Regions from separate parts of the Homo sapiens genome. Here all the other regions are reported to be linked to region 1. The links are microRNA targets in miRTarBase. Many come from high-throughput screens and were not tested one by one. Region 1 holds a microRNA gene; each other region holds the end of a gene's coding sequence.
What was found. The annotated mature microRNA hsa-miR-5011-5p reads UAUAUAUACAGCCAUGCACUC and lies in region 1 at 1,702-1,722, shown strand. An mRNA with a match to its seed (bases 2 to 7 or 8) in the 3' UTR can be bound and repressed. Matches are read on the target gene's strand: a 7mer-m8 pairs with bases 2 to 8, a 7mer-A1 pairs with bases 2 to 7 and ends in A, and an 8mer does both.

Region 2: the mRNA of USP25 is a reported target of hsa-miR-5011-5p. Seed matches in the 3' UTR shown: 8mer at 1,707-1,714, 7mer-A1 at 1,718-1,724, 8mer at 1,739-1,746, 8mer at 1,741-1,748, 7mer-m8 at 1,743-1,749 and 7mer-A1 at 1,778-1,784.
Region 3: the mRNA of ARHGAP21 is a reported target of hsa-miR-5011-5p. Seed matches in the 3' UTR shown: 7mer-A1 at 1,003-1,009, 8mer at 1,004-1,011, 8mer at 1,006-1,013, 8mer at 1,008-1,015, 8mer at 1,010-1,017, 8mer at 1,012-1,019 and 2 more.
Region 4: miRTarBase lists BEX4 as a target of hsa-miR-5011-5p. Seed matches in the 3' UTR shown: 8mer at 1,189-1,196 and 8mer at 1,191-1,198.
Region 5: miRTarBase lists LRP6 as a target of hsa-miR-5011-5p. Seed matches in the 3' UTR shown: 7mer-m8 at 3,362-3,368, 8mer at 2,453-2,460, 8mer at 2,451-2,458, 8mer at 2,449-2,456, 8mer at 2,447-2,454, 8mer at 2,445-2,452 and 19 more.
Region 6: miRTarBase lists PTP4A2 as a target of hsa-miR-5011-5p. Seed matches in the 3' UTR shown: 7mer-A1 at 2,577-2,583, 8mer at 2,575-2,582, 8mer at 2,573-2,580, 8mer at 2,571-2,578, 8mer at 2,569-2,576, 8mer at 2,567-2,574 and 34 more.

The regions. Positions count from the first base shown.
Region 1 is chr18:67,079,906-67,083,998 of GRCh38, forward strand. MIR5011 (microRNA 5011) reads left to right here and starts at 1,679; the gene lies at 1,679-1,781.
Region 2 is chr21:15,877,611-15,881,703 of GRCh38, forward strand. It overlaps USP25 (ubiquitin specific peptidase 25), which reads left to right. Exons shown (of 26, transcript NM_001283041.3): 25 at 186-381; 26 at 693-2,454. The coding sequence ends at 865. Among named protein-coding and RNA genes, the nearest start is that of USP25, 150 kb to the left of the region's middle.
Region 3 is chr10:24,581,151-24,585,243 of GRCh38, reverse strand. It overlaps ARHGAP21 (Rho GTPase activating protein 21), which reads left to right. Exons shown (of 26, transcript NM_020824.4): 26 at 1-1,630. The coding sequence ends at 832. Among named protein-coding and RNA genes, the nearest start is that of ARHGAP21, 140 kb to the left of the region's middle.
Region 4 is chrX:103,215,958-103,220,050 of GRCh38, forward strand. It overlaps BEX4 (brain expressed X-linked 4), which reads left to right. Exons shown (of 3, transcript NM_001080425.4): 3 at 192-1,289. The coding sequence starts at 197. The coding sequence ends at 559. Among named protein-coding and RNA genes, the nearest start is that of BEX4, 2.9 kb to the left of the region's middle.
Region 5 is chr12:12,117,584-12,121,676 of GRCh38, forward strand. It overlaps LRP6 (LDL receptor related protein 6), which reads right to left. Exons shown (of 23, transcript NM_002336.3): 23 at 1-3,837. The coding sequence ends at 3,543. Among named protein-coding and RNA genes, the nearest start is that of MIR1244-4, 7.7 kb to the left of the region's middle.
Region 6 is chr1:31,905,625-31,909,717 of GRCh38, forward strand. PTP4A2 (protein tyrosine phosphatase 4A2) reads right to left here. Exons shown (of 6, transcript NM_080391.4): 6 at 797-3,336. The coding sequence ends at 3,228. Among named protein-coding and RNA genes, the nearest start is that of PTP4A2, 31 kb to the right of the region's middle.

The DNA.
Region 1 (4,093 bases):
AAAGCTTAACGTATACTAAATTGCCACTCATGAATTATTGTCACACATTCTTGAGACACGGCTTTACAAATTTATATCCTTAAAAACCTAGATTGGAGTGCCTTCTTCACACATCCATGTCTAATATGGATCATGTTGAGTATCTTTGGATATATTAATTTTGCAATTTAATTTCAGAAAAAAGTAGTATAACACTATTGTTTTGATTTATATTTTTCTAATTGCAAAAGTTTTCTAATTTTCATGTATGTATTGGTAATTTGCATTCTATTCCTATAGAATTGTATATATTTTATTTTGTAATTTAGTATTGCTTCTTAAAAATAAATATTGACATTGTATATCATTTCGTTACATATATTGTATGTTTTCCTAATCCATCATGCATCACATACTTTGTTTTCCATATAAATTGTCATATATGTTTATTAACTAACTCATAAATACTCATATCTGTCACCATTTTTTAATGCTTTCTTGTGTTTTGTCATGTTTAGGAACACTTTCCCCACAATTCACAATACTATCTGACAGGTGTTAGTATACCTGTCAGTGTTCTTGGTTGTAGATGACTGAAATCCATTCCAATTGACCTAAACCAGGTAATAGATTATATTGGATAAATCATATAATTATTGGAAGGCTAAAGAAACAGGCTCAGAACAGGGCAGCCCCATGGAAACCAGGTTCCAGAATGGCAGTAAAATCCCCCCACAGGAACAGTCTGATGAGATAGCGCTGCTGCCACCGTGGCACTTCCTCCCCTAGGGCCTGGGATATTTGATGGTTAATTTCTGTACCTCTGTGATGAATACATACTTGTTTGTTTCTTACTGTTTTTACTTCTTGCTTCTGTTTCAAATTTCTCCCCGAAGCCATCTGTTTTAGTTTCCTCAGGCTGCCATAACAGATTAGCATAAAACAAATGGCTAAAAGAACAGAAATGTATTCTCCCCCAGTTCTAGAAGCCAGTTCAAACTCGGGTGTCGGCAGGATTGCATTTAATCCAGGATTCTAGGAGACAATTCTTTCTTATCTCTTCCAGTTCCTGGTAGCTCCAGATGTTTCTTGGAGCTACACTTGGCTATTTAAAGTTAATTTTAATGTTTAATTAACTAAACATTAAAATAATTAAAAAGTCAGTCCCTCCATTGTGTTAGCTGTATTTGAAATACTCAAAGGCACATGTGGCTACAGGCTACTATATTGGACTATGCAAGGGTAGAACACGTGTTATCACACAATGGTCTCTTGCACAGTATTGCTCTAGAATATTCCCTGGACAGAAAAGTTTTACCTGTGGGGCATTAAACAACAAAGAGCCTTACAATTGCCTCTGACTTGTATAGTAAAGCCAACAGTTGTTTGTTGTCATCGTCAGAAAAGTTGATTCCATATTTGAATATGGTTTCACTGCTTGTCATGCTTGGCCAATGCCACAAACCATGGATTAACTGATGGCCTTCTCCACTCTCATGGCTATTCACCCCCAACAATAGAACTTATTTCTTTCATGTTGCCTCATATGGCAGAATCCCCTTCTATTTTAAGGCTGAATAATATTTCATGGTCATATACATATATACACACACACAGTCATGCATTGCTTAACAGGGAAATGTACCTTAAGGCAATTTTATCATTGTTTGAACATCATGGAGTGTCCTTATCCAAACCTAGATGGTATTGAGTGGATGCTGTTATATATACAGCCATGCACTCTGTAGTTTGGGTACACAGTGCATGGCTGTATATATAACACTATCCATTCATCTTTCAGCAGGACTTTTTTTTGGTCACAACCCTGCTAACCAAAACAGGATCTGGCCAGAGAGCATGAAGTGAAGAAACTGATAGGAAGTGGCAGATGTCAACAAAAGCAATCTCTAACTACTCATTGCAATTTAATTGTCATGGTGCTGGTGGTAGTGTCTTATGCTAATGAGCAATATGAGCAGCCTGGCAACACAACCCAGAAGTTACCACCTCTTTCCATGGCAACAACCTAAAAGTTACTGCCCCTGCCTTAGAAAGTTCTAAACAACCTGCCCCTCAATTTGCATTGGCTCACCCCTCAATTTGCATGCATTTGACCTGCCTTAGAAAGTTCTAAACAACCTGCCCCTCAATTTGCATTGGCTCACCCCTCAATTTGCATGCAATTGAATGTGGGTCTCGCTGAGTATAAATACCGTTGCCAAGAGACCATATGTTGCTGACTCTGATTGCACTGCCTATGATTTAGCCCTGCTCTGCAAGGAGCAGTACCATTCAATAAACGATTGCTAAGACTCCTAGCTCATCCTTGAATTTTTTCCGGGGTTAAGCAAGAAATCCTCCCTGGCTAAGCCCCAGTTTGGGGCCTTGCCTGTCCCACAGCAGTGTAACGTACTACACACTTAGACAATATGACATAGACTGTATCTCCTAGGCTACAACTCTGTATAGCTTATTATTATACTGAATGCTATAGGCAATTGTAACACAATAGCATCCGTACATCTAAACATACCAAAACAAAGAAAAATTACACTAAAAACACAGTATCGTAATCTTATTGGACCACATTTATATATGTGGTTTTTTGTTGACTGATGCAATACACAGTGCATGGCTGTATATGTAACACTATCAGTCACCATTCAATGAGCAATTAGGTCGTTTCTATACTTTATTGCTACTAACACTACAATGAAATACATATGGATAAACCTAGAGGGCATTAAGCTAAGTAACTCTTACTTCTAAGATTTCTACCTTAAAGAGTCATATTTATGGCCTTTACTTGAGGTAAACTTCAGAAGCCATTTGTTGTGGATTAGGTAACGTGTGGAGAAATTGCTTTGTTGGGTTTTTCTTCCTTTGCATTTTAGTTTACACATATTAATTGTATGTATTTATAATCTGCAGAGTGATATTTTGATAAATGTATATGAAGTGTAATGATCAAATCAGAGTAATTAGGATAAACATCACCTCAAACATTTATCATTTCTTCATGTTTGGAATATTCCAAATCTCTTCTAGTTTTTTTAATATACACTATAAATTATTATTAACTATGCTTACCCTATAGTGCTATAGAACACTAGAACTTATTCCTCCTGTCTAGCTGTGACTTTGTATCCATTAATCAACCTTTCTCTGTCTTTAATAACATTATCAAACTGTGATTACCATAATTCTACTCTATACTTCTATAAGCTCATTTTTTAACTCCCACATATGAGAGAACATGCAGTGTTTATCTTTCTGTGCCTGACTTATCTCACCTAACATAATACCTTCCAGGTTTATCTGTGAATGGCAGAATGACAGAATTTTATTTTTCATGACTGGATATTATTGTATTGTATATATATGCCACAATTTCCTCAACTGTTCATCTTTTAAAGAACATTTAGCTTGATTCCTTATCTTGGCTATCACGAATAGTGCTGCAATAAATATGGAGATACAGATACGTCTTCTATAATTGATTTATTTTCTTTGGGTAAATACCTAGTAATGGGATTGCTATATCATATGGTGGTTTTATTTTTAGTTTTTTGAGGAACTTCCATACTATTTTCCATAATTACTGAACTAATTTGCATTTCCATTAACAGTGTACAAAACACAAGACTTGCTTTTTCTCCACATCCTTGCCAGCATGTTACTTTTTTTTTTGAGGCAGAGTATCAGGTCTCGCTCTGTTGCCCAGGCTGGAGTTCAATGGCGTGACCTTGGCTCACTGCAACCTCTGCCTCTTGGGATCAGGCAATTCTTCTGCCTCAGCCTCCCAAGTAGCTGGACTACAGGTACGTGCAACCACATCCGGCTAATTTTTTGTATTTTCAGTAGAGACGGAGTTTCACCATGTTAACCAGGCTGGTCTCGAACTCCTGACCTCAGGTGATCCGCCAGCCTCAGTCTACCAAAGTGCTGGGATTACAGGCTTGAGGCACTGCGCCTGGCTGCTTTTTTTCTTTTTATTATAGCCATTCTATTATATACACTTCCCTGATCATTAGTGATGTTGAGCAGTTTTTCATGTATCTGTTGGCCATCTTTATATCTTATTTTAAGAAATGTCTGTTCAGATTTTTTTTGC
Region 2 (4,093 bases), not on the chromosome of region 1:
TGCATAGCTTTTTCTAAAGAGAGATTTTCAGTTCTAGATAGGTTGAGATTGTTTTCTCTAAATACCGTTTGTTCTAATACTGTTTGTGAACATATTTATGTTGTCTTCCTTATTAATACTTACAGATCCTTAATTTAAAAAGGAAACAAAAACCTATTCTTTTTTTTTTCCTGCATTGCATTAAGAAATTAAATGAGCAAGCCGCAGAACTCTTCGAATCTGGAGAGGATCGAGAAGTAAACAATGGTTTGATTATCATGAATGAGTTTATTGTCCCATTTTTGCCATTATTACTGGTGGATGAAATGGAAGAAAAGGATATACTAGCTGTAGAAGATATGAGAAATCGATGGTGTTCCTACCTTGGTCAAGAAATGGAACGTAAGTTTAAACAATGGTAGTAGGCACCTGAGATGTCCGGATTAAATGCAGTTAGAATTAGATGTTATTTATTCTTGCCATTTTTTATATTAAATACAATATTAAGTATTAATATTTTCACATTCACATGATTACTCTTTTTCCATATTGATGAACTAAGCTGTGTGCATTGCAGTTGCCATTTATGTTTTTGTCTCCCCAAAATGGCAATTATCTTACCTATTAGAGTAAGTTAATATTAGTAAATCATGTTGACAATGATCGTGTAATAATTTCTATCTTTAGTTAGATTTAATTGTTTGTATTTGCAGCACACCTCCAAGAAAAGCTGACAGATTTTTTGCCAAAACTGCTTGATTGTTCTATGGAGATTAAAAGTTTCCATGAGCCACCGAAGTTACCTTCATATTCCACGCATGAACTCTGTGAGCGATTTGCCCGAATCATGTTGTCCCTCAGTCGAACTCCTGCTGATGGAAGATAAACTGCACACTTTCCCTGAACACACTGTATAAACTCTTTTTAGTTCTTAACCCTTGCCTTCCTGTCACAGGGTTTGCTTGTTGCTGCTATAGTTTTTAACTTTTTTTTATTTTAATAACTGCAAAAGACAAAATGACTATACAGACTTTAGTCAGACTGCAGACAATAAAGCTGAAAATCGCATGGCGCTCAGACATTTTAACCGGAACTGATGTATAATCACAAATCTAATTGATTTTATTATGGCAAAACTATGCTTTTGCCACCTTCCTGTTGCAGTATTACTTTGCTTTTATCTTTTCTTTCTCAACAGCTTTCCATTCAGTCTGGATCCTTCCATGACTACAGCCATTTAAGTGTTCAGCACTGTGTACGATACATAATATTTGGTAGCTTGTAAATGAAATAAAGAATAAAGTTTTATTTATGGCTACCTATGTGTTTGTAAGCAGGTATATTGTATATTAGTGTATTAGTAATACTAGATAAATGAATTTTGTCTGGGGATTAAGATTGGATAGTTAATAGATTAATACAATCTTTTAATTCTGCTCTAATGCTAGCAAATTGGAAAATGTTTAAGTCTTTGACACTTAAATTTATCTATATTTTTAACAAAGTTCTTGAACTTAGTATGGCACCGGAACCTGTTTTGAATTCAGTCAGGTTTTTACTCAAGTAAGTGGTTGATTTTTTTTAAGTCAAACTACACTGAAACTTTTATCCTTTTCTTAGATTAATCTTACTTTTTAAATGTATTTACAATATACAGCAAGGTGATTATTTCAAGAGAATCCCAAAGTACTTGAATAAGGGCTATTGTAAAATTTAAAAGAAATATTTATATATACACATATATACACATACACACATGTATATATATATTCTTCATAATGGAGGACAATGTTTTGCAATATATAAATCATTCTATTTTTGTAAATTGTATATCACTTTAATTGAAAATGTTCTCTACTAATTAATACTGTGAAACAAAATTGATGTTGTTTAACTAGAAGTTATGAGTATCTTAACTGCCTTTATTCCTTTTCAAAAAGGAAAAAGCTGTAGAACATTTTGTAGATGAAACTACTGTTTAAGATTAATGAATTAATATTGTGAATGAAAATCAAAATCCATACTTTAAAGGTAATCATGTTACTAACAACCTATTTTTGAATTCATAAAAATTTCTTTATAAATGATGTTTTGTGAACATAGTAAAATAGACCATTATACTATGTGTATGTTTGATACAGCGTCGCCAAAACTAGTGTTCTTTATTAGTGCCTCTCACAAAAGATCCTGGATGGAGGAGTAAGATGAAATATTATGCTATTATATGATGCTGTTTGTAAAGGTATTAATGTACTAGTAAGGTGTTAATGACAAGGAATTAGTACTATTCCTGTTGTAAAGTTAGATTTTGCATATTGTATCTATCAAAATATGTTTGGGTTTAGATTTTAAGTTGTCTACTGAGCAGATTTCTGCATTGGTTTTCCAGTCCTGTTAAAAGTTTAGAAACTTCATATGTGTCATCACAGCTTTTGTAAAGAAAGTATCCTTAATATTTTATGACATTCTACCACAGTGGTAAAGTTGTTTGTGTTTGTGTATAATTGACTGCTGAGATACAAAGTGCCCAAACACTATATGGAAATTATTCCTTCAAAGTCACATCCAGAGAATCATGTCACTCTTGTGCTGAAGGTAAGTATTATAATTGTATTTACTATGTACTTAAAAACCAGATTATTTATTCCTAGTAATGAATTTGAAATAACTTATTTAAAGAAAAGTGACCTTTTTCAAGACCTACAGAAACAACTTATTTTAATATTGGTTTTTAATCTAATTGTAAGGTTTAGATCATTGAAATTTCTTTTTTTTTTTTTTTTTAAATTTCCAACTTTTAAGTTCAGGGGTCCATGTGCAGGACATGCAGGTTTCTTACAGAGGTACATGTGTGTCATGGTGGTTTGCTGCACAAATCATCCCATCACCCAGGTATTAACCCCAGCATCCACTAGCTATTCTAACTGATCCTCTTCCTCCTCCCAGCCCCCACCCTCTGCCAGACACCAGTGTGTGTTGTTCCTTCCACCATTGAGTCCAATATGTTCTTATCGTTTAGCTCCCGCTTATGAGAACATGCAGTAGTTGGTTTTCTGTTCCTATGTTAGTTTGTTCAGGATAATGATCTCCAGCTTCATCTGTGTCCCTGCAAAGGACATGATCCCATTCCTTTTTATGACTGCATAGTATTCCATGGCGTATATGTACGTTTTCTTTATCCAGTCTATCACTGACTGGCATTTAGGTTAGATTCCATGCCTTTGCTATTGTGAATAGTGCTGCAGTGAACATACACGTGCATGTTTTTATAAGAGAACAATTTGCATTCCTTTGAGCATATATCCAGTTACGGGTTTGCTGGCTCAAATGGTATTTCTCTCTTTAGGTCTTTGAGGAACCATCACAGTCTTTCACAATGGTTGAACTAATTTACACTTCCACCAACAGTGTAAAAGTGTTCCTTTTTCTCCATAACCTCGCTACCATCTGTTGTTTTTATGACTTTTAATAATAGCCATTCTGACTGGTGTGAGGTGGTGTCTCATTGTGGTTTTGATTTGCATTTCTCTAATGATCAGTGATACTGAGCTTTTTTTCATATACTTGTTGGCCTCATGTATGTCTTCTTTTGAGAAGTGTCTGTTCATGTCGTTTGCCCACTTTTTAATGGGTTTTCTTTTTTCTTGTCAATATCATAAGTTCTTTATAGATGCTGCATATGAGACCTTTGTCATATGCACAGATTGTAAAAATTGTCTCCCATTCTGTAGGTTGTCTTTTTTACTCTGTTGTTAGTTTTGCCATGCAGAAGTTCTTTAGTTTAATCAGATCCCGTGTGTCAGTTTTTGCTTTTGTTGCAATTGCTTTTGACACTTCGTCATGCAATCTTTGCCCATTCCTATGTCCTGAATGGTATTGCCTAGGTTTTCTTCTAGCGTTTTTATAGTTTTGAGTTTTAAATTTAAGTCTTTAATCCATCTTGAGTTGATTTTTGTATATGGTGTAAGGAAGGTGTCCAGTTTCAGTTTTCTGCATATGGCTAGTCAGTTCTCCTAGCACCATTTATTAAATAAGAAATATTTTTCCCATTATTTGTTTTTGTCAGGTTTGTAGAAGATCAGATGGCTATAGGTAGGTGTGTGGTCTTATTTCC
Region 3 (4,093 bases), not on the chromosome of region 1:
ATCAAGTTTAGATAGCCGGAGACAGCTCTTCAGTTCCCATAAACTCATCGAATGTGATACTCTTTCCAGGAAAAAATCAGCTAGATTCAAGTCAGATAGTGGAAGTCTAGGAGATGCCAAGAATGAGAAAGAAGCACCTTCGTTAACTAAAGTGTTTGATGTTATGAAAAAAGGAAAGTCAACTGGGAGTTTACTGACACCCACCAGAGGCGAATCCGAAAAACAGGAACCCACATGGAAAACGAAAATAGCAGATCGGTTAAAACTGAGACCCAGAGCCCCTGCGGATGACATGTTTGGAGTAGGGAATCACAAAGTGAATGCCGAGACTGCTAAAAGGAAAAGCATCCGGCGCAGACATACACTAGGAGGGCACAGAGATGCTACCGAAATCAGCGTTTTGAATTTTTGGAAAGTGCATGAGCAGAGCGGGGAGAGAGAATCTGAACTTTCAGCTGTAAACCGGTTAAAACCAAAATGCTCAGCCCAGGACCTTTCCATCTCAGACTGGCTGGCCAGGGAACGCCTACGCACCAGTACCTCTGACCTTAGCAGAGGAGAAATCGGAGATCCCCAGACAGAGAACCCAAGCACACGAGAAATAGCCACGACCGACACACCTTTGTCTCTTCATTGCAACACAGGCAGTTCTTCCAGCACCTTGGCTTCAACAAACAGGCCCCTTCTTTCCATACCACCACAGTCACCTGACCAAATAAACGGAGAAAGCTTCCAGAACGTGAGCAAAAATGCTAGTTCTGCAGCGAATGCCCAACCTCATAAACTGTCTGAAACCCCAGGCAGTAAAGCAGAGTTTCATCCCTGTCTTTAAACTGGGGGTATGTCCACTCTAGCAAGTAAAAAAACTACTGTTACACGTTCCAGTAACTCTGTCAATATTTTCTTGTATCAGAATTGTTATTATGCAGCCTTCATTTGGGCTGGTTTCATCATTTTGCACTGTGAAATAGCTTTACAGTGCATTACTACAGCCAGAAGAACATATATATATATATATATATTTAAAAATATATCGGATAGTTGTATACAAATGAGCAAGGTATTTGTTGCAACTTACTACATAGCATATACCCAAAATCACTGAAGAAAATCGCTGGCATCAGTGTGCAGCAAATTTGTTCTTTTGGTTTCATCACTAACAAAAGTGCCTCATCATAAAAATACAGTTGGTTTTTAGGGTGCCATATTGTTAAAATTAGATAACTTACTTACATTGAATAAACGAATGCGTTTTATTGGTAACAGATATCATTACATTTACCAGTTTTAACACAGGTGGATACAGAACTTCCATTCTTTAGTCATTCCAGGTGGATCTGAGTTTTATATTCAAACTTTTAATACAGTTTTTGAGTTTTGTGTGACTTGAATTTTTAATCTTTCTGTAAAATACGTAACTTAAATGAACATATTAAATGTGTATCTTTTCTTCAGATACCAGATTTGATATAATGTTGTAACATAGGTGTGTAGATAGTGGATCCTGGATGGAACTGGCTTCTTTATCGAGAAGAATATAATTCTGCATGAGGACTTAATGAATCCAAACCTGTGTCATGCCTGTGTGCATACCCAATTAAACACTGGAAATAAAAATTGTTTTGGTGAATTTTGCATGGCTTGAAACTTATTCTGATATATTTTTAGATGTCATCCATTTATAACTACCTTACATGATTAATTGGTCCTGACTTTAAAAAGGTGCCTACTATATTTATACATTCCATCTTCTCCTCTTTCTTGCTGTGGTGGGTAGAGACTCTTTCTTACAGATGCTTACATTAGCCTAACCTCACTTGTTGACTGATAGTGTTTAACTCTTCTAGGTAAAGTAATGTATGTTATGTTAATGTTCTTTTCGTGAGTGAAACGAACATGAGTTTGGAGTCAGTCCAGCTCTACCTAGGTATGTGAACTTGAACACATTATTTAACTTCTCTGAATTTGTTTTCTCATATAAACAGTTAGTTACAGTAACACTACCTATTATAAGGGTGATTAGATTTAAATGAGATACTGTTCCACTTACAGTGCCTGCCACACACTAGTTTCAAAATAGAACAAAGCTATTGTTGGAAGTAATGGTTACAAAAAAATCTCAGACTGTTAAGGCTGAGAAGGACCTTAACAGTCATCAAATCCAGAGATTGTCAACTGTCAAACATGATACTTTCTTAAAAGTATTTTGAGATTTCCCCTTTACCATCATGAAATTCATAATATATCTAAATATAACTTTACATTGAGTATGTTATGATATAGACCATAATCCCCTATTATAAAAGAAAAATGAAAGTGATTTATAATAAAATAAATTTTTCAATATGCAAATGCTCAGGTACAACTACATCATGAAAATAATATAATGGAATAGTCAGATGTTTGCTCCAGTATATAGAGTCACTAACAATGGTAACTACACATGGAGATGGTACCATGAATAGTTTGCTGCTGGCGATGAGATTTTACTAGGAGTCATGCTCTGCTTTTAAAGTTTTGAACAAAACAAAGCACACACTTCCCTTAGTTTACATGAGGGGGAGTTCTTGCAGTGTATTATTAAAAGTGTCAAAAACACTTTTTACTTATATGTTTTAAAAGTTACTTTCAAGGCTCAAATAGTTTTATATTATTTGTTCTTGCTCCTCATTTTTTCTATATTTTTTTTTCTTTTGAGAGAGAGTCTCACTATCAGTCTATTGCCCAGGCTGGAGTACAGTGGTACGATCATCACAGTTCACTGCAGAGCTGCGACTGACAGGCACATGCCACCATGCCCAGCTAACTTTTTTTTTTTTGTATTTTTTGTAGAGATGGGCTTTCTCCATGTTGCCCAGGCTCATCTCAAACTCCGAGGCTCAAAGCGATCCGCCCGCCTTGGCCTCCCAAAGTACTGGGATTACCGGCATGAGTCACCACGCCCAACCTTTCTTTGGCTATAATTTGCTCGACTTTTTAATTTCTTGAGACGATTGCTTGGAAAATTGATTTTTAGTTGTTTTCTAATATCTTCATTTTAAGGCTATATGCTGTATTTTTATTATCATTCATTTCAAAATGCTTTCTAGTTTGCATTCTGATTTTTTTCTTTAACCTGTGAGTTATTTAGCAATGTATTGCTTAATTTCCAAACATTTGAAAACTTTCTGGTTATGTTGACTCCAGCATAATGTTACATTATCATTAAACATACATTTGAAATTGAGACATCCATTTTGACCCCACTATATGGTCAATTTTGAGAAATAACACGTCTACTTGAAAAGAATATGTTTCTATCCTTACTGGATGCTTTTTATTTGGTGTATTAGGTCAAATTTAATCATGTTTTACAGATCTAGATCATTATAGATTTCTTCCCTGGCTCTTACCAGTTCCTGAGAAGTGATAGAATATTATGATATGAATGTAGATTTGCATATCTTTTATGTCAATCTTTTATTTTGAAGTTAGTTTACTAAGTGAACATAAATTTAGAATTGTTACGTCTTTGTGGTAGATTGACCCTTCTATTATGAAATGTCCTTCATAATGAGTCTCAACCAAAGCTTTATTACCTTATTTTATATATTAATGTAGCTATATTAGTTACTTTTGGTTAGTATTTGCATAATACATCATTTCCATCCGTATTAATCCTTTTGTATTTTTCTCATAACAGCATATAGATTTTCTTTAAACATAGTCTCTTAGTTGGAATATGTAACCCAGTTACATTTAATATGATTATTTATGTGTTTGGATTCACATCTACAGCTGAACCATTCATTTTCTCCATGACCAGGGCATTTTACCTACCCTTTTCTCTTGTTTCTTGCCTCTTTTGGATTAATATTTTTATTATACCATTTCCTCCTATTAGCATATTTATATGTTCTTTTCATGGACATCCTTGACTTAACTGAATATAATTTAAATTGGATTCTACTTTGTGTATTTTTTTGTAGAGACCAGGTTTCATCATGTTGCCCAGGCTGGTCTCAAATGCCTGGGCTCAAGCGATTTGCCTGTCTTGGTCTCCCAAAGTGCTGCGATTACAGGTGTGAGCCACTGCACCGACCTGGCACATTGC
Region 4 (4,093 bases), not on the chromosome of region 1:
CGGAAGGGAGGGGCTCGGATTGAGGGCACCCCACAGGGCATACTGGCTTCTCAGGTGGAAAAAAATGAAATGTTAGAGTATAAAGTCAAGTCCAGGGCTCTGAATTTTAAAAGGTGCCTAGTAGGGCCTCTGTCCTCAGTGCTTATCAGTCCACCAAGAATTCAGCCCATTTTCTCTCTCTTGTCTCCTAGGAGTAATGGAGTCCAAAGAGGAACTAGCGGCAAACAATCTCAACGGGGAAAATGCCCAACAAGAAAACGAAGGAGGGGAGCAGGCCCCCACGCAGAATGAAGAAGAATCCCGCCATTTGGGAGGGGGTGAAGGCCAGAAGCCTGGAGGAAATATCAGGCGGGGGCGAGTTAGGCGACTTGTCCCTAATTTTCGATGGGCCATACCTAATAGGCATATTGAGCACAATGAAGCGAGAGATGATGTAGAAAGGTTTGTAGGGCAGATGATGGAAATCAAGAGAAAGACTAGGGAACAGCAGATGAGGCACTATATGCGCTTCCAAACTCCTGAACCTGACAACCATTATGACTTTTGCCTCATACCTTGAATCCTAAAAGTTTTCGCTGAGGTTAATGTGAACACTGCTTTACAAGCTTGTATTTTTGTGATTTACTTTTTCTGTAAGCCTTTTGGGGTTTACACTTACCAGTTTCTAATGGAAATTAGAATTCTAATTGAATATTGTTTTGTCTCAGCCTAAAAGTTACGGTCAGCATGGCAATTCACCTATTTTAGGAAAAATACTCTTTTCATAATATGAAATGCATAAAGCAGTTCAAAAAGCAGTCTGTATTCCATCATCTTCCTTTTTCATTCCAGTCCTTATTTTTGTAAGTATTACTTTTCCTCCTCCGGCTACCTGGACTCAAAATCTCAGTTGTCTTTGACAGTTTTTTTCTTGTCCCTGACCAAAAAAGAATGATCATACCCAGAATTCAATGTTTGATATTTTAAGAATGTATGTTCTAGTGTTTTTCAGAGTGAGTCTACCATCTGTATAAAAACACCTTGGGGGCAGGCAGGGGCATTTAAAAATGTAGGACCTATCGTCCAGACTCACAGAGTGGGGCTCCAGAATCTCCATTTTTAACAAACTCTCTTAAGTAATTCTGATGTGTACCAAAATCAGTGCCATTGGTGTGTGTGTACGTAACTATATACATATGTGTGTGTGTGTATATATATAATGTGTCATAACCGTAAACAATAAACAATATCAAGATAAATCTGACTTTGATGGGCAAGTAATTAAAAAAGAAAAGTATGAGACCTTAAAATAAGACTGATGATTATAGGAGTGGTAGGGACAGTGGCAAAGTTATTCACTGTGCAAAGCAAAACATGCCTGAAGGTCACAGCCTGAGGAACTCAGAATTCATCACCCCTGTCAGCAGTTTCACATCCAGGATCTCATTTTATTCTTAGAACAACCTATAAAATCTGTATTGTTATCCCACTTTTACAGATGAGGTCACTGGGGCTTAGAGATGTTAAGTACCAAGGCTAACTCCTGCTGAATATCTTGGGGGTGGGGGAATCCAGCCTGGGCCATTTTCTATTGGACCTTATCATCTGGAGATGCAGAATATTTGACTTTTGTAACTTGATGACAAGCTGAGGATGGTAAAAGAGACTCAGCAAGAATGGGGCTGTTTTTCTATACACTGTTTTTCTACATCTCAAGTACACTTTAATTTTTAGAATATTGAGGGATAAAAAAAGTAAGATCCTCTAGTGTTGTTCAAAGTTAGGATTGCCACTCTATGGCTCTTGAAATCAGTTTTGTGGGTTACAACAAGCAATTTTTTAAAAAGAGAACAAAAGTCATCCTATCACCCGTGAGTAGTGTTAAGAATTGTTTTGGAGAAAATAATGTGTTCTATGTAGTAAATATTGCCACCTTTATGATGTATTTCTAACTAGATCACAGTGAAAAAAGAATGAAAATCACTTATTTGGTGCAAACTTGGTTTCACAAGTGAAGAATTGTTAAGAAAGCGATTTTTCCTAAGGTCATACAGCCAATTAGTGAAAGCTGTGACCACAGCCTTGGTGCTTCAGGGTGCTTGTCTTCTCACCACATTGCCTCCACAAAGAATTATTTGGAAATTTTTGCATTATGTACTGATTGCCAATCAGTGTAAATGGAAAAGCATATACAACTTATGCAAAAATCACTTTATATGAACTTCACACTATTTAGTCATCAGAATTCCTGCATGTTCAACTGAGAACCACATTTAAGGGAAACTCTGCCTCAGATAATTTTGGAGCTGGAGTGATCTTTCACCTGTCTAGAGGAAGAGGATGATATAGAGTCTGATTTGAAAATGCACAGTGGTGAACTCAGGCACTTCAAAAAGGCTAGTTGACTGAGTAGAGTCCATGAATGATCTTTTGGTTCCTCTGAAAATGAGTACTATGCCTTCTGGCAAAGACCAATTGTGGATTTCCCAAAGTAGCCTCAATCTACCTCCCTCACAAAAAAAGCTAGCTGTGGGGGTGTGAGATCAGAACATGATTAGTTGAAAGAAAGCTGAAGCCTCCTCACTGGGGTTTTTGGGGGAGAATGAGGAATAAGGACAGACTTTCTGGAAGAAATAAAAGTGTCAATGCTTGGGTTCAGAATATGGTTTTTTGAAGTACCAAAATGAGCCCTGTCTCCTTGGTGTTTCTGGGAGAGTGGGATGATAAGAACAGAATTTGCTGGAAATGGTAAAGGTCAGGGAACGGGGTCACAATGTAATTGGTTGAAGGAGAACTAAATTAAGACTCCTATCGTGGGAGTTTCTGTGATGGTAGGCGACGAGCACAAAACTTTAGAGGACATAACGTTCAGTGACCAGAACATGATCAGGAGCGTGATTGAAGAACTGAAGAAAACTCCCTTACCTCTGTGTTGCTGCAAGGGTGGAGGAGTAAAGAGAGAACTTTCTAGAAAAAGCTAGAGGGGGCTGGATCAGGTGACTGAAGAAGAACAGAGCTATCACAGCGAACACATTTATACATCCCATGGGAGGGTCAACTTTCCTTGATCTTGGTGGGCAATACATTTTGTCTTTTTAAGGTGACAACAGAGAGATGTCAGTGAATGCCTCTAAAGAGACTAGCAAGAAAGTATAATGACTCTTTTATAAAAACCAACAAAAGCAAATAAACCAAGAGTGAAGAAAAAGGGCTAACACATTCATCCCTATCAGTGGTTTATACATTCATATTTGTAAAATTTTAGTTTCTTGAGGAAAATGTGCATGTTTTTATGGATTTTGGAGCAAAGCTTGGGAAGGATGCCTGTCAACTAATGCCTGGCAAATCTTCCAGAACTTAAGAGGAGAAAGACTGACAAGACCTCTGAGAAGAGGAGAGTCAGTCTAATCTTACACAGCAGCATATGCTGCTGTCTTCATATTACAGAAATTGGAGATATCACTGAAGAAGTCTTTAAAAAGGCCAGTGTTATGGACCGAATATTTGTGTCCCTCCTAAAATTAAAATGTTGAAAACCTAATTCCCAAGGTGATGGTATTAGAAGGTGGCGCTTTTTGGGGGGAATTAGGTCATGAAGGCAGAGTCCTCATGAATAGGATCAGTACCCTTATAAAAGAGACCCCAGACTGGGCGTGGTGGCTCACGCCTGTAATTCCAACACTTTGGGAGGCTGAGGCAGGCAGATCACGAGGTCAGGAGATCGAGACCATCCTGGCCAACATGGTGAAACCCCATTTCTACTAAAATATAAAAAATTAGTCAAGCGTGGTGGTGCGCACCTGTAGTCCCAGCTACTGGGGAGGCTGAGGCAGGGGAATCGCTTGAACCCGGGAGGCAGAGGTTGCAGTGAGCCGAGATCATGCCACTGCACCAGCCTGGTGACACAGCAAGCAAGACTCCGTCTCAAAAAAAAAAAAAAAAAAAAGAGAGAGAGAGACCCCAAAGAGCTCCTTCACCTTTTCTGTGAACCAGGAAGCAGGCCTTCATCAGACACGGAATCTACCAACACCCAGTCTTGAACTTCACAGCATCCAGAATTGTGAGAAATAAATTTCTGTTGTTATAAGCCACTCAGTTTATGATATTTTGTTAT
Region 5 (4,093 bases), not on the chromosome of region 1:
GCTGCAGCCTGTTTACTGCATAGAAGTAGGCGTGCTTAACGCATACCTCTTCAGTCTCTATTATGACTACTGGTATCAAGTCACATAAATAAACACACTTCATTAACACACTAGGTAAGCTACAGCTATTAACTCTACTGGAAGTATTCTTCATTAATAGGGCTTTATAGCAAAAGAAAAAGATGATCCTCCAAAACTGCTACCTAATACAGATGATGGCTATTTTTAATACCTTCAATAATGAATGAGTTTCCTTCATATAAATTACTGACTTTAGGATATTTTTAAATGATAAAGAAATACAACCCTCAAAATCATCTTAAAATTGTACTGCTCAAAGCCCCTTCCCCCAATTACTGGCCTATATTAGATTAAAATGTACTTTAAAGTCTTCATTTCTAAGTACCTATCATCTCTGTAGAATAGGTGTTCTCAAACTTACTAAAGAATCAGAGATCTCTTGGTAATGTATCACAAGCTACTTTTATATTAAAATTAAAGTAACTACATAATCTTCTGCTAAACAGATATCTTGTGATATGCTGTAAGAGTGGCAGAAAGTGCCAAAGGCATAATAAAATTTCATGGAAGAAAAATTAATAGTCAGAAAATTCTATCCACCAACTCTCTTTGTTTCCCTGTGAATGTGCTATTATCTGACTTAAGCAAACAAAACTCCTTAAGTCACTATTCAGAAGACCACGACTCTGTTGGAGCAAAGTCCAGGCCTTAGTTATAAAAGACCACTTCAATGCAGAATAGCTTACTGTGGTGCACACAAAGTATGTTATGCTCAAGTTTATTTCTTGGACAATTTTAATCACATCAGTTAGTGCATATATTTTAGGACACATGTTCAAAATAAATACTTTTGCATATAAGGAATCTAATGAAACATTATTCATTTTCCCCCTTGGACAATGAATTTAATACACCAAATTTAAAAATCCCTTTTCTTTTTTCCCCCTAATTTGTGATCTCATGCTTTTCCTCTCAACTTTTCCAATTACAGCTTGTGTTTGATAATCAATATACAGTTTACTTAAGCTTAACTGTCCATGTAACCTAAGGCTCAATAAATCTTTCCAAATTTGACAATTCTCTCATTAAAAAGTACTCCCAGAAATATTAAGAATCCATCTCATCTACCCCAGAAAGAGAACACTGAGATTAGGCTGAACTGCCTTCAAATAATTTTAAACAAATTGGCACACAAATTAGTATTTTGAAGAAGAGGCCATTGCCATCGCAGTGCAAGCACGTGGACTGAGATCCAACAAGGCAATATTCTTCTTAGTTAATTAGAGTGCAAGTCTCCACATGGGAAGCCCACCAGATCAAGATGCACATTTAAATATGTAAACATATAGAATTCTCAAATTCTAACTGACACCCAGGTATTGCTAACCTTTCCATCTTCATTTAAGCATCAAGTGCCCTGTGTATCACAGAATCCAAGTTCAATGTCCATTTTGTCTGACACTGTGGGCACTTAGTTCCAGCAATGGGAAGAGTTCATGCTTGTCTGTTTTAGGATTCTGATAGATTTACCATTTGCTTATATGCAAAATCAAGTGCACCTGATTCTTACAGTCTCCAACAATCAGCATTATTCTGAAACCACAATTTTATCTTCAAAAACTTTACTTAGGTATTTTTAACTTGCATGAACAGTTACTTCACCCTTGCCCAAATTCTGAATCCTTTCTTCCACTGTTTTCTCTTGGGCCCTGAAACCCAGAGAGGCCTTGGCAAGACAGAATTAAAAAAGAAAAAAAAAAAATTCAATAATTAACTGACCAACACCTCTTAAGCTAAAAATACATTAGTTTAAAACCATTCAATTTTAGCAGAGAAGTGCTACACATGTGTAAAAAGCAGGAAACGAACTTCTGGCAAGGTGGCAGAGCAAGTGCTAGAATCATTCCACAGGTCAGCCCTGATAGCTCAAGATGTAGCAGCCCCAGTACCATACATGACAGCAGGTCAGGCAGATCACAAAAGAGGCTTCCATTATTCCCTTCCACCCAAATTCTGACAGCTGAGAAGTTAACAGTTTGCCTTCTCATTTAATCCTCATTGTTAAATTTGTTAAACTATCTTAATCCATAATGGGTAAGAGAGGACCCACATAAAAATATTGGGTGATTACAAGAATAATTTGTGGATAATTTGAAAACAGCCTAACATTCACAGTGGGTAACAGAAAGATATTAAATTCATGTCACACATTAGAAGAGGTATGTATGTAGACATTATTCTGAGAAAAACCGGTCTAAAGAACATGAAAACATCACAAACTGTTAATATAGGGAAAATCCTAATAAGAAAAAAATCTTTTTAAATAGATTGTCTCTAACCAGAACATATTTAAATGTTTTACTCAGAAAACAAACAAACAAACAAAATATATATATATATATATATATATATATATATATATATATATATATATATATAAATGATTTCGTACTGTGATATATGCTGAAAGTAGTGCAAGGATATGAGATTTACAACAAAAACATAATGGTTAAATTTTTAATTCTTAAACATTGTCTATATGTGTTGTAAAAAGACATTTTAATGAGCATTAAAACAATCTTGGAAGAAGAGAAATAATATGTCTAACTTTTGATCATTATGCAAAAACAGCAGTCAAATTGAAGAGCTAAGCCTACTGGGGAATGGAGCTAGAAGAAATATTAAAATCAAGTTTAATTTAGAAAATTCCATTTAGTCAATGCTTCAGCTTAAAAAAATCATGGTATCTTAGCAAAATGACTTACCAAGTTGCTGGAGGAGGCAGCAAGGTAAACATACCTAGAGAAAAAAATTCATTTTGACAGAGGTATGGATTCTAAAGGTAGGGACAGAGACTTGCACACACACACAGCTTCATGGCATCTTACCAGAGGGCTGATCTCTCCTACAACAGCAACACCCAGAATGGGTTTTTAGAAATATCTACTTTCCTCACTAGCACTGTTGGATTCCTAGAGAAAACAAAGCCCTTCGTCCAAGGTTAGTATTAATTGCATTTTTTTCCTTTCATCATTTCTTACTTGTTGGCCCTCAAATGTTAGTTAACTGAAGGCTATCTGGCTACATCCATGTATCTATGGTTTGCTGCTCTGAGATGGACTTAATTTTTCTTCTTCCTCTTTTTTATTTTTGGTATCAATAAAGCCCAGATATTCCTGGTCAGTGATGCCTTTATTATTCCTGTTTCCTTTGTACTCAGTTGCTTCACTGGGTTTAAGGCATGCTTTGTGTATTTAGTTTGCAAAAATAAAACTTTTAGTACAAATTTTTTTTATACAAACTTTTATGGCACAAGCAGCAAATCTGCTGTTTTAAGAAAATATATAAATATCCTTTTCTTCTGTACAAATATCTCCAGTATTCCCTACCCCATTTTATAATTTTAACTGTACATGGTCTGCCTCATCCTTCTCTAATAGCTCCCTCCCCCCCTCCAGATCTCAACCAAATTTATATTTACATTTTTACGTTGGAGGCAGTCAGAGGAGGAGGGCCCCTCCTCAGGAGGAGTCTGTACAGGGAGAGGGTGGCGGTGGGTAGAGGTGATGAGAATAGCTCCTCTCTGTGTATGGAGAAGGTGGGCAGCTTTCATAGTTCTCCTCTGCTGACAAGTATTGGCTTCGGGGTGTGGGAGGTGGGGGCACAGGTTCTGAATCATAGTTCAAGTCACTGGTATAGCCCTTGGCTGTTGCCACTGAGGTCATTCTCCGACTAGGAGCATAGTCACTGTCACAAACATCTGTGCTGCAGGGTGTGGTGGGGGGTGCAAAGTGCCGGTAGCTATATGGCCTGTAGCTGGTATAGGGAGAAAATAAAGAGAAGCAGTTAGTTTTACAAAAAAAAATGATTTCCCCTCTCAGAATAGAGGTATTAGATGTCAACTACCCTATGAAAACAATAAGCTACTGCAATTTAAATTTACACAGACCAAGAGGCAATTTTCAATGGCAGATTCGCTGAGGAAAATAGCAGGTACTTTCTTATTTGCAAATAAGAAAGTGGCAAGTGAAAATGAACAGGATGGGAATGCAGAGGTGAATTCAATCTAGCC
Region 6 (4,093 bases), not on the chromosome of region 1:
TGTTCTTTAATACGAATTCAAGTACAAAGTTGCAATGCTTCACCAAAACCTATGGTATAAATAAGCTGGGTGCAGTGAGAGACTACTCAGAATGGCCATAGTATATGCGATTATTGACTCTGTGAATAGCCACTGCACTCCAGCCTGGGAAGCACTACACGACTCTGTCTCTAAAAAATAATAATCTATGGTATAAACCAAGCCTTTGACAAGATGCTGAATTCCTACAGGGTTGTATACAAGAACTGAACCAGAAAATGTACTAGATGTATCCCAGCTATGGTTAAGTTGGCTCTTCCTGAACACCTCAGTGACATAAAATCTTTGAATTTCCAAGCCTCTATTTTACCTCCTTGCAGTAAACTAGCAGGACCCAAAACAGTCCTTGAAAATAGCAGGCAAAGAAAGGGGAACAGATGTAAGTGAAATTTTGGTTTTGTTGTTGTTGTTTTGGGACAGGGTGTCTGTCACCAAGGCTGGAGTATAGTGGCATGATCACAGCTCACTACAGCCTCAACCTCTTGGGCTCAAGTGTTCCTCTCACCTCAGCCTCCCAAGTAGCTGAGACTGCAAGCACACACCACCATGCCCAGCTAATTATTAAACATTTTTTTTTTGTAGAGATGGACTCAACACATTACCCAGGCTGGTCTTGAACTCCTGGGGCTCAAGTGATCCGCCTGCCTTGGCCTTCCGAAGTGCTGGGATTATAGGCATGAGCCACTGCACCCAGCTTAAACTCCGCTTTATAAGCACAGACATAAACTCTTGAGGATGGAGGAAAAAAATGCACAAAGAGCGTGTAAAATATGTTTTATTGTTCTTTAAAAGGGTTCAGGGTTTGGTTTTAAATCAGGCTGCACACCTTTCAAATCAATCTGACATCTCTCTATGTCAAACTGGCTTCAGCTAGCAATACTTCATTAAATCGAAAAGAAAAAAATTGCTTTAAGGAAAAAAAATCCAGTTTTAAGAACAATTAACATTAGTCTTTAAAATAAAAGGAGGGCTAATGTTTCATGTTGCTTTATACATCCTTCTCCTCAATACAGAACCAGGAATGTAATTTTCCTAACTCAGGCAGGCACTGATACTGATGGACACTGCGCGTGCACACACACACACACACATACACACACACACACACACACACACACACACACCCCCTCCCCCCAAACAACAAAATTCAGAGTATGTCAAAGGAAAAAGGTTTGTTATTGTATTGATCAAAACCCAGTGGAATCAACACCATCTATCTTAGCTTAGCAGGTATGCTGTTTTGATCTTGAGTCTATATTAATGGAATCTATTGTTGCATTCTGAAATAAAGAATTTTGGATATACCATTATGTTTTAAAGTCCTAGAAACAATTTCGAAAAGCATTATTTTGTTTTGTTTTCTGGGATGGGAGAGGAGAGAATCTACAGATTTGCGTTTAGTTAAAAATCAAAACTCCAGCATAGGAAATAGGCAGTTCACATAGCCGGTCAACATGTGAGGTATCATCAGTGTGAGACAAGGTCCCGGTCTGTTCCTATTGGCCTAGCTGACGCTAACAAAATGGGAGGCTTATGGCTCTGCACAGCAAATTCCAGCAGGACAAGATGACTTTAAGCCCGTATTCAGAGCCCTAGAAGCAGGGCACTACTGAGTACGTAATATTTAGAGGTGAAAATAGTGCAAGAGCCCCTGATGGTGCCCCTCTACCTGCTTTGTCCATGCAGCCTGATCATAACTGCCTTCCACAAAGGAGCAGAAAAACAGCTTTTCTAGATCAGTACACTAAACCCAGCCAAGAATCTGCAAAAATGCTACTACACCGCTTCACAAGCAACACAGTCCCTTCACTACTCATTGGGTTGCACGATGTCTCTCTTCTACCCTGTTATGGCCTGTGGACACATACTCACTAGGCATCATTGTTGGTTTTAAACCAGGGATTTTTTTTTTTTAATCTCAAAAAACCTAGTAATAACAAGGCAATCAGTGGTTAAACTGAACTTTACATATAGGGGGCAGTTTGGAAAACACATACCACAAGCATTTCTCAAGTCGAAAATATGTGAATTTGCTGCTGCTCCTTTGACGGTTCCTGAAAATTCAGAGTACAAGTCCTAAAATAAAAATTTTAAGCTACCAGCATTCTCTGATACTAGACAGAAAATCAGAGTAACGCTACAGCCCACAATTCTACAGGGTGTAAAAAGTACGCTCACTGCCTGGACATCTTTATTGATGGCCTGGAGTCCTCCCTTTTAGAAGACAAGTTTCTGGGATAACCACTTAGCTTCATTGGTTAGGGAAGAGAAGAATTCGACTCTCAGGTAAGTTGAGAAGAGACTCCTCTTAAAATGCCATTTCTCCACTAATTTATCAAAATAAAAACAAAACAAAAGGCTCTTGGCTACTTTGCCTAGTATTAGATAGGGTTTTGAAGAAACTAACATGAACACCCTTTCATCAGTAAAGACTAAAAACCACCTGGAAAATATATATATATATATATATATTATATTATATATATATATATATATATATATATATATATATATATATATATATATATATATATATATATATATCACTGCTGTTTTTTTGGTGTTGTTTTTTGTTTTTTTTTTTTTTTTATCTAAAAGTGCCCAGGTGGGCTTAAGGCTGCCAGACTGCACGCACATCTACAGCAACAAGGGCTTCTATTCCATCTACAACTTGGATCGGGGGAAAAGGGAGATGTAGGAGAGGAAGGAAAAAAGAGGGGAAAAATATACCACCAACCCTCCCCCACAAAAAAAGGGAAAAAAAAAATCCCACCACAGGGAGATCTATGTGCCAAGCATAATGGAAGAGTGTGCTCCCCAAACAGATGGTTTTGCACAGGCTAATGTTCTGCTGGTTTTCCTTAGAGACCTATTTTGAAAAAGTTTAAAAAGACAGGAGATTTCAAAATAATTCAATCCTGGCAGAAATTCAAACTCCAAAACTAGGAGCAAAATCATCCTTCACTGAATTAATTCCTTTTCTCTTTCTCTTTTCTTAAACATTTTATTCATTTTATAGAGAGATTTCTTTTTTGTTTGCTTTTGTTCCAATCATTAGGAGAGTGGTTGAGGAGTACTGAATCCATCACTACTTTGATGACACAGGTAATATTCCAGATTCACATTTCCAGGTACCAAGAGTTCCCTCTAAATGGCACAATCAAGTCAGCCTTCGTTTACATTTCCTTCTACTGAACACAGCAATGCCCATTGGTATCTCTGAAGCGTAATCGCATCTTAGGTCGGTATTTCTCCAAATAAAGCAGCTGTTTGGAATTGAACGCTCCCCTTCTTTTTCTGAAAATACAAGAATGGCAAACTTTATCATGTAAAAAAAGAGCTGTCTGATTCACTGAAATGCATTATTTACATCCTAAAGCCTTTCTAATTCCACACAGCTGAAAACCAGCATATTTCCCATACTACAACAATTCTTAAAGAGCTAAGTTGCAACATGAACTTTCTAAGCCCTCCTAGAAGGAATAGAAAAATTTTTCTTGCTGACTGTCATTATAGTCTATTAACCATTTAATAAAGATCAGAATAGTTTCTACTTTCGTTTTCTTTTTTTAAAGGAAGGGTTGAAAGGGAAAGGGCAAGACAAAAATTGTCAAAGAATTCTGGATAACAAAATAGCATGATTCGTTATTCCAGATCAATGTCAAGATCCTGTCTGTGCACTACCATCCTGATTTTGTCCCTGAATAGATCACTTAAGAGTCCCAGGTGAGGCCAGGCGTGGTGGCTCACGCCTGTAATCCCAGCACTTTGGGAGGCCGAGGTGGGCGGATCACGAGATCAGGAGATTGAGATCATCCTGGCCAACATGGTGAAACCCCGTCTACTAAAAATACAAAAATTAGCTGGGCGTGGTGGTGCGTGCCTGTAGTCCCAGCTACTTGAGAGGCTGAGGCAGTAGAATCGCTTGAACCCAGGAGGCAGAGGTTGCAGTGAGCCGAGATTGAGCCACTGCACTCCAGCTTGAGCAACAGAGCGAGACTCCATCTCAAAAAAAAAAAAAAGAGTCTCAGGTGATTAACTGCTCCTCTACACA